2 linked regions of the Homo sapiens genome follow. The protein of the gene in region 2 interacts with the protein of the main gene of each other region in a pairwise test. Each region holds a gene or a part of one and is shown on either strand. Other genes may lie near its edges.

Evidence for each region. The genes of interacting proteins can lie anywhere in the genome.
Region 1: the proteins of MEPE (region 2) and ZXDC interact in binary tests that used the Homo sapiens proteins (3 or more experiments, as listed by UniProt).

The regions. Positions count from the first base shown.
Region 1 is NC_000003.12:126,462,261-126,466,009, forward strand, and holds part of ZXDC (zinc finger protein ZXDC), read right to left. Parts: intron 1-3,749. UniProt on the Homo sapiens protein: Cooperates with CIITA to promote transcription of MHC class I and MHC class II genes.
Region 2 is NC_000004.12:87,835,915-87,839,663, reverse strand, and holds part of MEPE (matrix extracellular phosphoglycoprotein isoform a precursor), read right to left. Parts: intron 1,033-3,749; coding exon 979-1,032; intron 1-978. UniProt on the Homo sapiens protein: Promotes renal phosphate excretion and inhibits intestinal phosphate absorption. Promotes bone mineralization by osteoblasts and cartilage mineralization by chondrocytes.

The DNA of each region.
Region 1 (3,749 bases), on a different chromosome or scaffold from region 2:
TGAAGACTGAGTACTTTTGTTTATGCCCATGATGTTACCGAGTGATGCCCCAAGGAAGCACTGACTGTCCTCTTCCCACACCCTGAAGCTTGGTTATCACGACAGAGTCCCATGGCCGGTCGCTCAGGGCAACCGACACACACCCCAGGAAGGGACAGGAAGGGACACTGGCTGAAATCAGACACTTTACGTACGCGTCTTGGATCCTCAGGCTGACAGGGCTTTCTCCAGGGGAAACAACTGGAGAGAGATTAAATAACATTTCCTAAGGTCAGGCCAACTGGTAACAGCAAGAAGCAAAGTAAGACTTGCATCCATGTCTTTCTGGCTTCAAAGCCTGCACCCTCTCCCCTCTAGGTGCCACCGGAGCTGCCCGAGAGGACTGAACCTTTCCACTCAGCTGCCAGTTGCTAGCTGGCCTGTGCTCTGAGGATATTTTCCGAATCAGCTTGTCAGCTCATGTTTGCCAAACTCTGTGCTCCACTCCACAACTAGCTGCCACCCCAAAACCGACTGGAGCCATATAGGGGTGAACAAAGGAAATAAAACTGGCTGCCTGGCAAAGCCAGGACAGACCCAAAGCTTCAGCTCTAGGCAGATGCACAAGACTTCCAGGCATGCTGGGGGCCCCCTAGACGGAGCTTTTCCTGATGGGCTTTCCCTCCCACAGCCTCCCCTACCACTGCATCTCCAGCCTCACATTTCCCCAGCAGGACTGCAAGCCTCCTGAGGGTGGAGAGCCATCTGACCACCACTGTCCCCTCAGCCCCCAGCACAGTGCCCAGCCCTGATGCAGCATGTAATTATTATTATTATTATTTTTTTTGAGAGGGAGTCTCGCTCTGTCGCCCAGGCTGGAGTGCAGTGGCGCGATCTCGGCTCACTGCAAGCTCCGCCTCCCGGGTTCACCCCGTTCTCTTGCCTCAGCTCCCCGAGTAACTGGGACTACAGGCACCCGCCACTATGCCCGGCTAATTTTTTTGTGTTTTTAGTAGAGACGGGGTTTCACCGCATTAGCCAGGATGGTCTCGATCTCCTGACCTCGTGATCGGCCCGCCTGGGCCTCCCAAAGTGCTGGGATTACAGGTATGAGCCACCACGCCTGCAGCATGTCATGATTCTAACAGGCCCTTCTTCATCTGGAGTCTTAATTTCTGGTCATAATACTCTTTAAATATTTGATTATTTGTTATTCAACTACGTAATTTAAATAATCAGCATACTTTTGGGGGAATAATGACTTCCAAAAAATTTTAATGCATAGGCAAGTTTAGGGTTTGTATACAAGTACATGCCAATTACACCAAATCACAGGATGCTTCAAGCATCAAGCAAACAGTAAAATGGGAGCATAATTAATTTGGGCAAAAGAGCCAAATAAGGACTTGATGTCACGCTTTCCATAGGACTGTCCCCAGCAGCTTCCTGACTGTGCCAGCACCTGGCCCAGAGGAAAAGCTGCTCTCGGTTCTCTGATCCTATTTCTCCCATGCCAGCTGTTACTGTTCCCAAGCTCATACCTGCAGGCTGTGAACACCTGGCCAGAATGTCTATTATATTTTATATTTTTAATAATGCAAATCTACAAAAGAAGTCTATTCTAGACAAAAAGAAAATCAAATTCAGAATGTATCCTCTTTAGTTGTCATATTACTTTAAAGATTAAAAAAAGTATCAATATAGTATCACTTCTTCAATAAATATCCCTTAGTACCAATGAAGCATTTTGAAAGAAAATGGTAGTGATCCTTTGGAGAAATTAAAAATGGAAAACTATGTCAGTTTTTCAAAACTTCCTAAAAATTCCCTTGACTCTCTTGAGGACTCAGCTCCCTGTGAAGAGATCATGAATAATCTCAGTGCAAATGATACCCACTTATTAATAAATTTCTTACTTAGCACTTTACTAATTCTATAAACATTTACTACCAGAGACCAGACATGTACAAGGGCCAGATATTAACACAATCACTAAATAAACATTAGATAGCAGAGCATCTGGCAAAACAGTCATGATCACCACAGTTCAAAGCCCAGCCCCAGCCCTTCTTGCAGGTGTGACCCTGGCAAGTCCTTTCTATCTTGGTTTCATCAGTGACAAAGCAGTGAGGAACCCACTCCCAGGACCACCATTAGGGGGACTGAAACAACCCATTGAGGGCGTGACATAATCCCACGGTAACTGGGTGTTCTCGAGTGCCTGTTTTTCACTAGACGAAAGGGTGACACCTGGTCTTCTACCCCTGACAGCTGGCAGGGGGATGACACACAAATAAGTCATTGTCACACAGGAAATTCAATCCTGGGATACATAGGTTGCTACAGAAGAGGGTCTCACATCCCACTAGAGTTTAAGGAAAGTGCATCTAGTATAACACTGGGCCTCTGCAGACTTCTCAATTGGCCAGGTCAGGAAAGGGGAAGTGTGCCATGAGAGGGAACGGCCAAACAGGGGAGAGGCCTAAGTGATGTAGTCTCACAGAGCCCTCAGAGAAAAGGGGCCTGGTCATGTGGGCCTCTGTGAGCAAAGGTGACACCCTCCAACATGAATCAGGTGGCACGCACATTCCGTGTCCTCAAGACACTACTAAAGCCAGAAGGGCAATTTATTTAAATATAAAGCTGAACGGCAACTGCTGTAAACTGTGAAAGATCAGTGTCCAAGATCCCAAGGAGGGGCTTCATGACCACTTCTAAATAGGATCACAAGAAAGCAAAGGCCACAGAACTGCCCTGAGCCCAACCCCTCACCAAACTCTGTGCGAGGCATGGAGGCCTGTCCCTTGCCAACGCGGCAGCTGTGACACAGCTGCGCCCCAAAGCCGGTGCTCTGCTGTGGTGCTGCTGGTCACACAGGAGACGTGAGGACCCAGTTGGTGACACACACAGCCTCCACGGACTGAGCAGCAGAAGTAACTCTAGGGCCAGCTAGGATGCCATCAGCCAGGCCCGGTGAGGAGCGACAACCGCACCAGGGCCCAGAGAATAGGGCACATGGGTGTGCTCCCCAGAGGGGCCGCCACCACAGCTGCCAGGCACTTCTGTATCCTGGACTGTGGAGAAGGCCTAGTGGGGTAGGTTTCCTAGTCCCATGCTGCAAAGCTGCCCAATGACTAGGCACTCACACACTCAGCATTCCCCTCACAGGTCACCAGGCCACCGTCACTTTCCTCTCTAACCCTGCCCTCTCCAGCCCTCGTTACTCCCAGTCCACTCCTGAAACACAACTCTGCTCTAGCCTTTGTTACTTGGAGATAGAATAGCTGAGGCAGACGGAAACACAGGAGGGGCAGGTTCAGAATTCAGGACAAAAGTCCCAGTGAGAGACACAGGCTTAGGGGACATATGCTAGGGAAAGTCAACAAAGTGAAACATTCTTCCAGGAAAGCATTTCAAAGACATGGGAGGGGCAGGGCATGGTGGCTCATGCCTGTAATCCCAGCACTTTGGGAGGCTGAGGTGGGCAGACTGCTTAAGGCCAGCAGTTCAAAACCAGCCTGAGCAACATAGTGAAACCCTGTCTCTATAAAAAATGCAAAAATTAGCTGGGCATGGTGGTGGATGCCTGTGGGCTCAGCTACTCTGGAGACTGGGGTGGGAGGATCACTTGAGCAGGAGCCTGAGGTTGCAGTGAGCCATGATCACACCACTGCACTCCAGTCAGGGTGACAGAGAGGGACCCTGTCTCAAAAAACAAAAGACATGGGAGGGATTAGAGGGTCAAAGGCAAGAAAGTGGCAGAGAGTGCA
Region 2 (3,749 bases):
TTGAGGCACGTTTTATCTCTTACAAAGAAGTTTTTGGGCTCTTTGTAATAATATAAGAAACTTTAAAAGTTGGGTGAAGTTGAATTCTACCTCTGACAAATGGTAGTACTTCTTATAACCACAGGAGGGTGTGTGTCAGCCGGCTCCCGAAGACAGCAACTTGTTCCTTCTCTTTTCTACATAACTCTAAATCTGTTTTCCCTAAGGGCCTGTCAACTGCTTTCTGTCCTAGGGTGGATCGATTTTATTACCAAACGTCTATGGAAATGGAGCATGTGGAAATATTTTCAGGTGGGAGGGGGTGAGAGGACCAGGAGAAAGACAGGATTTACAATATTCATGTCTGATGTCTAATTGGCAAAACTCACAGCATGAACATTCAGGCTCTTAAGCTGGCAACGTTGGCCTTTGTAATTTTCAGCTGAGATGAAGTACAGAAGATTGTTAGTTCTTAGAACATAATTTTCTGTGATAGGCAGAAGCAAGCTGCAATTTGGTGGCATGCAAAGCGGGGAGGATTCATTTAACTGGATGCATATGGAAAGCTGACTCCACGGACATAGAATTCCCCATTCAGATCTGATAGCCACCTTCCCCTTTACTCCCTTATTTATCATTCTGAGAGCAAAGTGTTTGTCAGGTACATGTGTGGGAAAATATTGTTTGCTAGTAGCAATGTTCCCAAATTCTTACTCACTTAGCCCCATGAAGGTTGCCTGGCAAAGCATTGTTTCATTTGAAGGAAGAAATCATACTGGGGAGAAATAAATCTCTATTCACAATGTTTTCCTCTTTTCTGTCACACATGGTGTGTGAGTTACAATACCTGATTGACTAGAAAGTGCCAACATTATGTTGTATATTTTTTCACTTCCATTCAAAGTGCCCAAGACTATTTTGACAGTTACACTTTTCTCTTACTGACTTTTTCTTTATAGAGCTGAAATAGAGTTATTTGAAAAGATGAATTCTGTTTACCCTCTGCTCTTCCACACAGCTTTGCTTAGTTTTCTCAGTCTGTGGTTGAAATGTCTGAAAGGAAACAAGAAACAAAACTTCACCCACTAGAACATTCTATTTCATTAACTTCTTCAAACAAATGTTTCATTTATTTTTCTCTCACTGAGTTGTATTATTCACTGTGGAAAATCATTCTAACCAAAAGAAGATTGACACACTCATCGCATTAATATAATATTTGTTTCAATATTACGAAAGACAGTGCCAGCTTTCTGCCCCCAGAGGGAGACAGTGCCGTCTCCACTACAGAACTGGATTCAAGCTCAGACAACCGCTAAGTGGGTGTGGTGGGGGAGTAGGGAGGGATGGCACCCCAGACGAAGGAGCTTGGCTGCCATCAGAATCCACTGAAAAAGAAGTTTTCACTGGCAAACTGGGAGTTGTTAAATATAAGTGAACTAAAATCAGAGTTTGACGATTTAAATTGTGTGTGTGCATTAATTATATAAGTTGAGTAACTGTAATATTGAATTAAGATATGATGCTGCTGATGGCCCAGGGAGAGTCAAACCATAGCCGTTCATGTGAATGGTAGGATCGCAATTAAGGACAAAAACTTATTGCTGCCAGATGTTACATTCTGAGAAGGAAAAATGGAGGTGGCCAGCAGATTAGGATAAATTCTGTTTCTTGGTTTGACATAAAGTGTCAAAATTTCTTGAGGGTAGCGTAGGGTGAGGGGTAGCTATTGAAGCGCAGAAAGGGCAGAAATGAAGAAAGAACAGACCTCGGCAGTTTGTCCCAGTCCTTTGGGCTGAAGTTTGCATACCACAGGAAAGCACACAGAACAGGGACCCTAAAATCTGAGAGCAACTGTTTTATTAAAGGAATAGATGTAAGTTCTTTAATTCTCAGTATTTTTCATTTACCTCTTTCTTTCAGAAACTCCTAGCCTATCTCAGATGTGGCACTGGGAACCAATGGGCGGACTGGGCCGTGTTTGAATGGGTGTGCTACAGTGGAAGCAGGCATCATGGTGGATCAATCATATAAAAGAGAGAACCCCTTAAGGGAAAGATTGAATAAAGAGATAAACAGAAAGAGGGCCGCCTAGGCCAGCTGTCCTATTTACCTGGAAAGTGTTCTTCCTGAAGAAGCCTTAAGCTTCTATATTTTGTTTAATACAGACAGGTTGTTGCTTGCACTAAGATATTGGGAATGCCCCTGCTTGCTCTCAGCTCCTTTGTATCTCCAGCTCAATCTGAACTGATTCCTTCATTTCCCAAGCTCATTTGCCCTCTGTGTTCAGACTGGGTTTGGGTGAAGGAGGCCTGGCATGAGTCTGGAGGGGGGGAAGGAGAGAGAAGCCAGGGTATGTCCTTCTCTACTCTCCGTGTTTGGGGCTGCATCTCTAGAGTTGGGTACATCTCCTTTGTGGTCCTAGTTCCCCCAGCCAGGGGCCTAGGAGCAGCACCTTTTTTTTTCCTTCCAGCCCTAAGCCTGGTAATAGCTTCGATCCTTGGGTGGTCTCACCACCCCTGGTTGGCTTTTCTGTTCTTCCTTATACTTTATAGCTAGCTTCCCTTAGAAAGTCGCTCTACTGAGCTCCCTGTAGTGGATTTTGTTTTCTGGACTGGACTCTGGCAGATAAAATCATCTTCAAAATATAAAACTCAGAAGTTTAGAAAGCACCTCCATGGCTGGACTCCAAGGCATAGCTGCCTAATATTCAATTCCATTCTAGAAAATAACAATAGTTTATCAATAACACCTTCTATTTATAGGACTCTTTATAGTTTGTAAACTGCTTTTGTACTTATAATCTCATATGAGTCCCAAAGTAACCTTTATAAGATGAGCAGTAGAAGAAACAGAAGTGCCTACACTCATAGTTGGTAGTTGCAGTAGAAGTAGAGAAGATATTTTAATTTAAATCTTCTGCCTCAAAGTCCCAGGGTTAAAATAATAAATTTTTGAATGATTAAATATGAAAAAGCATTTAGTAATAAGAGGAAATGTTCCTAAACTTTATATTAATTATCGTCAAGGCATCTTTTATAGTTTTATCCTTTATTGCATTTCTTATGTTGATTCTTATATGATCATGTGAATATAAATTTGGACAATTATATCACTCTTCAAAAATATAAAACCAGGGCAAACAGTTCTGGAAATTGGACTATAGGAAGAAGAAAGCATAAAAATGAGATGGGCAGATATTAAGCAAAAGAAAGAAATGATAGTATGGGGTGTCAGGGATCTTCTTACAGAACACACACACACACACACATATGGATTAGAAACATACTTGACAATATAGAGTACCTCGGTACAGTTTTGATTTATTGTGACTTATAACAAAGTCTTTCTAGTCTAACTGCATCTTGATGAATATTAACCGAATTGCATAGCCTAATAAACATTCATTTTCTTCCTTTTAAAAATCATTTAGAATTTGGCTTATAATTCTAAGACGTATGCAAGTGGCTGAGTATATACTAATTTCTTAAGCCACCAATCTATCATTTAAAAATTCAGGTAATTACTAAAATGGCATCTATATACCTGGAAGAAAACATCATATTTAATGATTCACAGTTACAAATGTTGCCTCTGCATCCTTGCTGAGCTGCTTTCATTTGAAATACGCATCCCTCCCTTGTCCCCTCTATACCCCCAAGCAGATGTCTTAGGCTTGAATGTGGCCCTGTAATGGAGATGGCATTGTCTGCCTCTGGGCAGGAAAGCTGGCATCCTCTTCTGATCAGTGGTCACTGAATCAATGTTGA